Linked DNA regions of Homo sapiens: region 1 is reported to be linked to region 2. The links are microRNA targets in miRTarBase. Many come from high-throughput screens and were not tested one by one. Region 2 holds a microRNA gene; the other region holds the end of a gene's coding sequence.

Region 1 (4,000 bases), not on the chromosome of region 2:
TAGAAAACCATGTATTTCATCACTGTCTTTGCATAAACCTAAGTAGCTGATATAACATTGTTAGGTTTTAGATCTAAGTTTTATGGCAAAGTAACCCTTAAGTTACTAAAATTTGTGTATGTGTTCATGGAGCAGACATATATTGAGTGTTTCTTATATACCAAGCCCTCGTGCTGGATGTTTAGCATCCAGGGATGGATAAGACAGCTGTGCCTTCAAGGAGCAAGAGGCCCTGGCGCAGAGACCACTGCAGCGCCTCGTTAGCTTCACAGGCAGGCTCGTGCTGTCTGCACACTCAGCAGTGACAGCAGGGTGTGGCCAGGGCGACACAACCTTCAGGGGATTCTGGAAGCTCATACTCCTCCAGGAAAGAGGGGGCTCTAGGCAAACATGAAGGCCTGAGCCCCCAGCTCATCTGAGGAAAAGCAGGTGGTCTGGAAGCGCCGCTAGGGCAGAGGTGGGGAGCATGTGTAGACGCCTCCCGGCGGGAAGGGACCACCAGGGCCAGCTCGGGCCCCAGCGCTGCCGGTGTCATTCGGGGTTAAGGTCTGTCCAGCAGCAACGCGGGGCAGGGCTGGTGCCAAAAAGACCAGTTAAAGAATTGGAATTTGTGTCATGTTTAACTTGTTGGAGTTGTGAATAAAGAACACTGTGAGGTCGTAATGGGAGTGATATCTCAACGTTGTTTTGTTTTGCTTTCTTGTCAGATTGCAGAAAAGCTGAGGCAGGCCCTCAGCCGCTTTCCAGTGATGTAGGACAGAACGGGCCTTGAAGAGAATGCCGCGTGCTTTCTCCTGACTTGGGGCAATGCAATTCAAAACTTTTTTTCCCCTATTATTCAGAAAAAAAAGGAAACAAAACCAAAAAGAAAGAGTTGCAAAAAACTGCATTTATTTTATTAGCCACCCTAAATGCGTCAGTTATTTAGGGATGGTCTTTTGTTCATTTCCGCATCCATTATTTAAACCAGTGGAAATTGTCTCTATTTTTGGAAAGTACTTAAAAGTTACCAGAATTTTCAATGGAAAATGAGGGGTTTCTCCCCACTGATATTTTACATAGAGTCATAATTTATATGTCTTATAAATTATAAGTCTTATATAATTTATAAGTCTCCCACAATCTTCCAGTTCTTACCCAGTGTCAGATAATTAATTACTAATTACTTTCTTAAAAACATGAACTATGCCAGAATAAAAAATATCTATGTTTGTATATTTTTATAACTCCTTTCAGTCCTCTGGGGCTCCTGTCATTGAGGGAAGTCGTTACGCCTTTCACTGCCACAGTTACAGCTCAAGTGCTTACACTTCAAGAGGGAGGACGCTGGGGGCCCCTGGGGCTGCTAGTGCCATCGTGGTGTGTGGCAGGTGGGCCATCCCATGTCCCTCCAGGGGGACCCCACAGCCTGGCAGATGAGCAGATACCCCTGGCCACCCATGTCCTCAGCGACATTTCTGATGTGCTGCTCTTATGTGAGGACCAGTGCTTTCTCTCTTTGCACTTCCTTCCTAATCTTGGTTAAGGCATGTTTTATGCCATGAAGAATACATTAGAAGAATTGAGGGACTTTGTAGAGAATTTTGTGGCTTTGGTCCAACGGGTGAGTGGCTGTGCGGAGGCCTGTGTTCGGGAGGGCCTGGGAGAAGGAGGGCACCCAGCACCCCGGCGTCTCTGGCCCTTTCTTATTCTTTGGCTCCTCATCCACCGTGATGAGAAGCGCTGCTGTGGCCACGGCACACTGCTTGGCTTGGGTGGCGGGTTCATGGCCAGTTGGTGTCATCAGCAAAGAGAAAAAGCACAGGTTAGCTCCCCATTAGATGGAAAAGTGTAGGGACTGAGAAGGGCTGCAGCCTCAGCAGTGTACAGAGTCCCCGGCGCTCTGAGGTTGGAGAGAAAGAACAGACCAGCGCCCTTCCCGACTACATCCGAAACTTCACACAGGGTGTTTCTGAGCACCAGCACTTCCAGCGCTTCACTTAACGGCATAAAGCAAAACAGGACCTTGGCACACCGTCAGCTCGAACTCAACACTGGCAGCCACCGTCTCACCCCTGCGGAGGAGCGCTCCCGTCTCCCACAGGTGCCTTACCGCGTTCCCTCCCGCTGCTTTCATTTTTCTGACCTAATAATTACGGGAAATGGAAAGTCTGGGCCAGCATCAATAAAATGACACCAAAAATAAGTAGATGAAATCAAATGAATATGAGAACATCTTGTTCTTCAATATCACGGGTTTTTGTTAATGTTTCATAAGTAATTCTCCCCACTTGATTTTTCTTCTATAAAATCCCATAGAACAATGTTTATGCTATAGCCATTTAATATATGTACAAATTGTAAAGAATATGTATAAATGTTTTACACGAATGTAAGAGCATGTAGAAGCCAACATATAAATAAATTGTTTAAAAAAACTGTACAGTAAATTCTCAAAGCACTTTTTCAAAACACTTTTTGGACTTTGTGTGTGATTTTTGTTGTTGTTGTTAAGTACTTTTTATTCCAGCTGCTGAAAATGGTCCAGGTAATGAATTCTTCCCCAAATCCTATTTCTTCTGACATGAATTCATCATTTCAGTTCCGTAGGTCAGTGTTGCGGTCCGGGAAGCGTATCATAACCACCTGGGAGTTGCCAAGAAGCAGACAGTCTCCCAGTGTCTGACTCTCGGATATTTGGATTTGACTGGTGTGAGGCAAAGTGAAAAAGGGATGGGGGAAATGGAGATGGCACGGGCTCCTCAGAGCGTGGTAGCCGACTGTGAGGAAAAGCAGAGGGAATGTGAAAGAAAATAAGAGAATCCACGGGATTTGATGCCTGGAAGATTCTCCTTCAAGTGGCAACATGGCATATATATCCTTCTCCGGGGAGTCACATGCACCATTTGGTTCTTAGATACGTTGATGTTTTGATTTTTAATGATTTGTATCAACCTGTAGGTACCACAGAAGAGCTGTAGTCATACAATCACATAACTTTTACAAATATAGTGGAAAAAAAGTCAGTATTTGGAGAGGAGAGATGAAGGCGTGGTGGAAGAAAAGGTCAGTCTCGTTGTCAAGCAAGTGACGTCAGTTGCCTCCCACCAGGAGCAGCAGTCCCGGGATGTCAACCCACTGCATGGTTTGTAGGTGTTGGGGTCACCAAGAAAGATGACTCACAGAGGCACTGGGTGGAACAACGTAACTTGATTCATTTTCTTATTGGTGACTTTATTCACTTTCTTTCTTTTGTGGTAGCTTTATTCATTTTCTTATTCTGTCATTTTAAAAATGTTTTCTTACAAAAGTACCTGCTGGGTCTGGGGTTTGATGTTGCCCTACTTACAAGCAAGTAATTTAGTCTGTTGCTGTTCCATGGATACTGGAAGGGGCCATGAGACTCGTGGGTCTACTCACATAGAGAAGAGACAGCATGATCTACTTCTGTCATGGGCTTCAGTCCCAGGGAGATGGTCTGTGGGCACCCCCCATCCCCCCGCCCCCGGTGGGCAGCGTTGACAGGCTGTGCATGGCAGCCTCTCCCGGCACCACTGGTCTACATCTTCACTAAATCCATAGATCCCTGCCTAACAACTGGGAATCCAGAATCTCACAGTCTTGTTTATTTATTTATGAGATAATCTCACTCTGTGGCCCAGGCTGGAGTGCAGTGGCATGATGTCAGCTCACTGCAACCTCTGCCTCCTGGTTTAAGGGATTCTCCTGCCTCAGCCTCCCATGGCGCACACCACCATGCGTGGCTAATTTTTTTTGTATCTTTAGTTGAGACGGGGTTTCACCATGTTGGCCAGGCTGGTCTTGAACTCCTGACCTCAGGTGATCTGCCCACCTCAGCTTCCAAAAGTGCTGGGATTACAGACATGAGCCACCACACCCAACCTCACAGTCTATAAAGTAGTCAAAGTAAAAAAGGTGTGATGGCTGAGCAGAACTGAACAGTGATGGGTGAGAATGGCCCTGTTTTTCCTGTGTGTGTGTAACTCAATTTTCCCAACCT
Region 2 (4,504 bases):
CAACACGTGGAGCGGTGGTTGGGGGGAGGTGTCCAAGAGTCAAGAAGGGGGCGGAGGGACACCCCATGGCCTCATTTCCACCTCCCCATTCTTCCCCACCCCTTCTCATTGCTTGGCACAATGCACAAGTTTACCCCCCGAACTGGATCCTATTAAATAATTCAATGGTAGCGGTGTAATTTTGGTTGGAACCAGCACGGATTCCCAAGTCGTGACTGCAAAAAGTGAGTAATGCGCGCTGGCTGCGTCATGGCTCTAGTCACAGTTCATTCCGAACTGAGAAGGAATCGTGACTTCGCCTGGAGACGTCCCCTACATGGGAGATGGGGGGCGGGGGGGCACCAAATCAGTGGGGACGGGGGTGGGGGGGAAGACCTATCCAATGAAAACCGCTGCCAGGGGGGCATTTGAACTCCGTCGCTTGCTGTCTCGCTGTCCCCTCTCTGCCCCGCGCACCTCGCTCCCCCTCCCGGCCGGCGCTCGCAGTGGCGCGCCTGCTCGCTCTCCCGCTAAGCGACGAGTCTTCAACAAGTTGGAGGAAGGCAGGAACGCAGGGGTTAAGCTCGGAAAGCCGCAATTACCAAGATCGTGACCCTCCCACACAGTACAGTAACTTATATACTTACCTGGAAGAACCCGCTTTGCCGCCGGGCAAACACCCGTGGGGGGCGGGGAGGGGCCGGAGGGAGCGGGCCGGCAGGAGAGGGGCTGCTTCCAGCTGGCTGCAGTGCGGACGGGACCGGCGCGCTCCCGTGGCCCCCAGACCGAGGTAAGGAGCAGGGAGTCGGCGCCCGGGTCGGCTGGTGGTCGGTCGGCTCACTGGTAGTCGGTCGGCTCACGGGTAGTCTGAGCAGAACTTTTTTTTCCCAGTTGCCCCGCGCCGCGGCGGCGGCGGGCGCAGACCGCGGAGCCCCTCTGGCGCGGCGGGCGCGCAGACGCTCGGAGGGTGTGTGCTTGCGTCTGTCAGTCCCGGAGCCGAGGGGATGCCGTGGGAGGGTGAGTGGGTCGCGGAGCTGCAGGAGGGTGATGGATGGGCGAAGGGGGTGGGTCGACAGGGACTTGAAGACAGTGCCTCCACCGTCGAGAGACGTTTTCTCCGGGCGTGCTGGGCGAGGGTGGGAGTGTGTGTGCGCGCGCGCGCGCCCGCCCGCACGTCGATTCCAGGGTGCCAAAGAACAAATATGGCAACTTTCCCCCCAAGTTCTTGCAATGTTTGCAGTAACCCATCCTGGGTGAGGTTTCCCCCACTGGGGGACTATACTGCTAGGGAGGGAGATAGTCAGGACGTCCCTTAGCCCACACCCTGCTTAGGTACTAATGGGGGGGGGGAGGGGCAGGAGAGGATGTGGGAAGGGTGGCGCTGCACTGCGAAGAAGGGCAACCCCTCAAAGTTTGGATGGATGGGATGGAGGAGGGGGCCGAGCGGGATGGAGGAAGAGGGAGGGAGGAAGAGGGAGGGAGGGAGAGTGAGGGAAGGAGATCTCCTTTCTCCCCATCTCTAGTCTTCCCTCCCCTCCTTTCTTCCTCCCGCAGAAGGTGGAATCTCCCGTCGTTGTGGGGTCAGGCAGTCAATGACGGGTTCGCCCCTTGTTGTTCCCCCTAGCATTCTGCAGAATGGGTAGAGAGTTGGGGGCGGGGGGGTGGGCTGCAGAGTTGAAAGTGCACCTGAGGCGAATGGGCCATTAAACACCCAATACTGAGACGGTTTCGGGGAGGATGCGGAGGGAGGAGCTTCACCTAGTTGAGCATTCAGAACTTTGGGTGGGAAAGGGGGTGTTGAGACATTCTCAATTTTCTAGAAATAGGATGACTAGTGTGGAGTTTGGGTTTATTTTATGTTCATCTTTGTCATTTTTCGTCTGGATCTTCTGGCTTGGGTCCCGTTGGGAGAGGTCGCTCTCTTAAACCTCTCTTTCCCAATACATCGCGCTACCCCCTCACTTGGGCTGGAATGAGGAGGGGGTCCTGAACCGCTTTTTTTGGCAACAACAATATTTTAACATGTTCCAGTCTAGGTTTTGTTGAATAATTAGAAATGGAAATATTTTTTTCTCCCTCCCCCTTCTGAAAAAAAAGGGGGAAATGTGAGCTCTCTTCTGATTGGTGGGTGACGATTTTAGTCCGCACCAATGAGCTGGCGGCCTCGTCTGTATTTATTTAGTGCTCTGGGGGAGTTTTTCTCTTTACGCAGCGCCTGTAGTCACGGCTGGAACCTTGGCTGGGGGACTCTGAGGGATAAGAGGGGATTCGGGGGGAATCCGAACTGTACCTGTTCAGAGATCCGCGACCTTGCAGCCGGGGCTGGCGGAACTCTGATAGGGAGATAGAGGGATAGGACAGGCAGGCGGGGAGGCTCCGGGTGCTGGGGCGACAGGAAAGGGGTGGAGGCTGGGCTCCGGGATCCGGGTGCCCCTCTGCGGTCCCCTTCTCGCCCTCCACACACTTCTCTCGGGGCTGAGTTGGGGGATCGCGGACGGTCTGGAGAAATGGAGACACGAGTCCAGGGGCGCGGAGGGGCGGGCAGCGCGCGGAGTGGTGAGACTGAGCCGCGATGGAACGCGCTGGGGAGACCCAGCCTGTTCGGCTCCAGGGTTCGGAGACATCCTGGGCTGAAGGCGGCGGCGAACCGAAGAAGCCGGCATATTCTGCCCTTCGCGAATCTTTTTGCGGTCTGGGCTTGCTGTACATAACTCAATAGCCGGAAGCCCTTACCCCAAAAAGCATTTGCGGAGGGCGCACTCGTCGAGAAGACGGCAGCCATCCAGCGATCGCCGAAGCCCGCACCTTCCCGAAGCTGCTCCATCCGAGCCTTACCCGGCCCTTTCCCCGTTTTCCACGGAAGATTCGGCCCTTTCCCCCGTCCTTTCCGCGGTGCCCGAGGCTTTGGTCACCTGTCTTCCCTCCGAGCGAGTCCCCCGCCCCCAACTTTTTAACAGACTTTGTATCACAGGGGGAACTGGAGCAGGTGGGGTGTGTGTGTTTTCGGAGAAGTGAGAAGAAGCTAAAATGCAATAAAAGTTTACAGAAGTTGTGTCTTCCCCCCAACCCCCGCCCACACCACGAATAACCCCATTCACTCAATGCAAAGAAAAGGATCTGAGCTTAAGGCCAAGTCAGAACCTGGAATATGAATCAGTTTAGGACATTTTGTGGTCATTTTTGACCGTAATGATCCGATTCTGCAATATGGGGGTGGGGAAGCCCTTGAGGGAGGGGCTGGAGGCCCTTAGTATCTTATGTCCTGGTGCGGGGGACCCGGAGGTGAGGCGAGCCGCGGTGAATTGGGTAGATCCGAAAAAGAGGGAAAACACCCAGGCACCGCCCGATCCCCGGAGTCTCTTCCTCCCGCGCCTGCTTCCAACCTAATTTGGGGCGTTTTGCAGCCTCGGGTCTCCCACATCTCCTCTTTTTCAAAACTAAGTAGCACGGAAGGGGGTAAAACAGGCGAGAACTGGGGAAGCCCCCGCAGAGAAGGAGCTTTGGAGAGATGCGGTTGTGCCCGACTCAGACGCTTAGCAGGAACAGAAGCAGCAGCAGCAGCAGCAGCCCCATCCCGGCCTCTCCAGGCGCCGGTCCTGGGGAGGGGGGCAAAGCTGCAGGAGAGGGGAGAGTCTGTGAGTCCCCCTCCTCCCCCTCCACTCATTGCAGTCCTGACCACTTCGGTCACAAGTGGCACAAATCAGGCCTTCACCACGCTCCCCGCGCCCTTCGCCTGCTAGGAACACTGCTAGACGCCCTTGCCCTTAGGGACTGGGCCAGAAGGACACACATACACACATGAGTGCCCACAGGGACAGAAATGGGTAGAAGATGGGTCTAGAGACACCGGAGTTCAAGACCCGAGGGCTGCGAACCTTCACGTTTTCGGGGAGGGCCTGAATTTCCCCCGTATCACAACCACCGTTCTTCCAACAAACTAAACGCCCACCGTCATTAACCTGTCCGCTGGTTGAACACCCGGACTCTACCCTCTCCAGAATTAGGAAAGGGCTGCAGAGTCCGAGGGTGCTGGACAGAGTCAATCTTTTATGGCTAAGACTGTGAGAAGGCACGGAAGGCGAGCACTCCAAGCTCTAAGGCTAAATCAGAGCTTTCCTCCCCAGATAAAGGAAATTTTCCCTCCCTGAATACGTTTTCTAAAAGAGTAAAAAGGTTCCTAAGATCTGCAAAGGAGATGGAGCAAAAAGCAAAAGCTCCGGGGATTTTCCTCCCTGCCTCTCACCTGGGGCCGTCTGTGGAGCGATAGCTTTGCGGAGGGAGAGGCATAAGAACCACGTTAGATTAATAATAGCTTCACCCTGTGTCCCTTCAGCTCCTCTTTTGTCTTTTGCTTCTTACATACCCCTCCTCTTCCCAGCCAGAAAGCCCTCCTCTCTCCCAAAGCCTGAACCTTCACCAGATTTGGGAGAGAGGTGGCCCAAGAGAAGTGAACTTGCACAGAAGAGGTTGAGCCACCGCAGCGCAGGCGGCTCAGGGTTATTGCGACCCTAGCCCCCTCACTTCT

The links. Region 2 holds the annotated microRNA hsa-miR-129-2-3p (AAGCCCUUACCCCAAAAAGCAU, at 2,703-2,724, shown strand). A microRNA usually pairs through its seed, bases 2 to 8, with sites in the 3' UTR of a target mRNA and lowers its output. Matches are read on the target gene's strand: a 7mer-m8 pairs with bases 2 to 8, a 7mer-A1 pairs with bases 2 to 7 and ends in A, and an 8mer does both.
Region 1: the mRNA of SNX9 is a reported target of hsa-miR-129-2-3p. Seed matches in the 3' UTR shown: 7mer-m8 at 1,843-1,849.

Annotation. Positions count from the first base shown.
Region 1 is chr6:157,942,084-157,946,083 of GRCh38, forward strand. It overlaps SNX9 (sorting nexin 9), which reads left to right. Exons shown (of 18, transcript NM_016224.5): 18 at 708-2,994. The coding sequence ends at 755. Among named protein-coding and RNA genes, the nearest start is that of SYNJ2, 38 kb to the right of the region's middle.
Region 2 is chr11:43,578,748-43,583,251 of GRCh38, forward strand. It overlaps MIR129-2 (microRNA 129-2), which reads left to right and starts at 2,647; the gene lies at 2,647-2,736. LOC124902807 (potassium/sodium hyperpolarization-activated cyclic nucleotide-gated channel 4-like) reads right to left here and starts at 2,688. Exons shown (of 3, transcript XM_047428006.1): 1 at 2,270-2,688; 2 at 627-1,263. The coding sequence starts at 2,688. It also overlaps a transcript of HSD17B12 not described here. RefSeq lists silencers at 462-511, 612-871 and an enhancer at 1,932-2,731.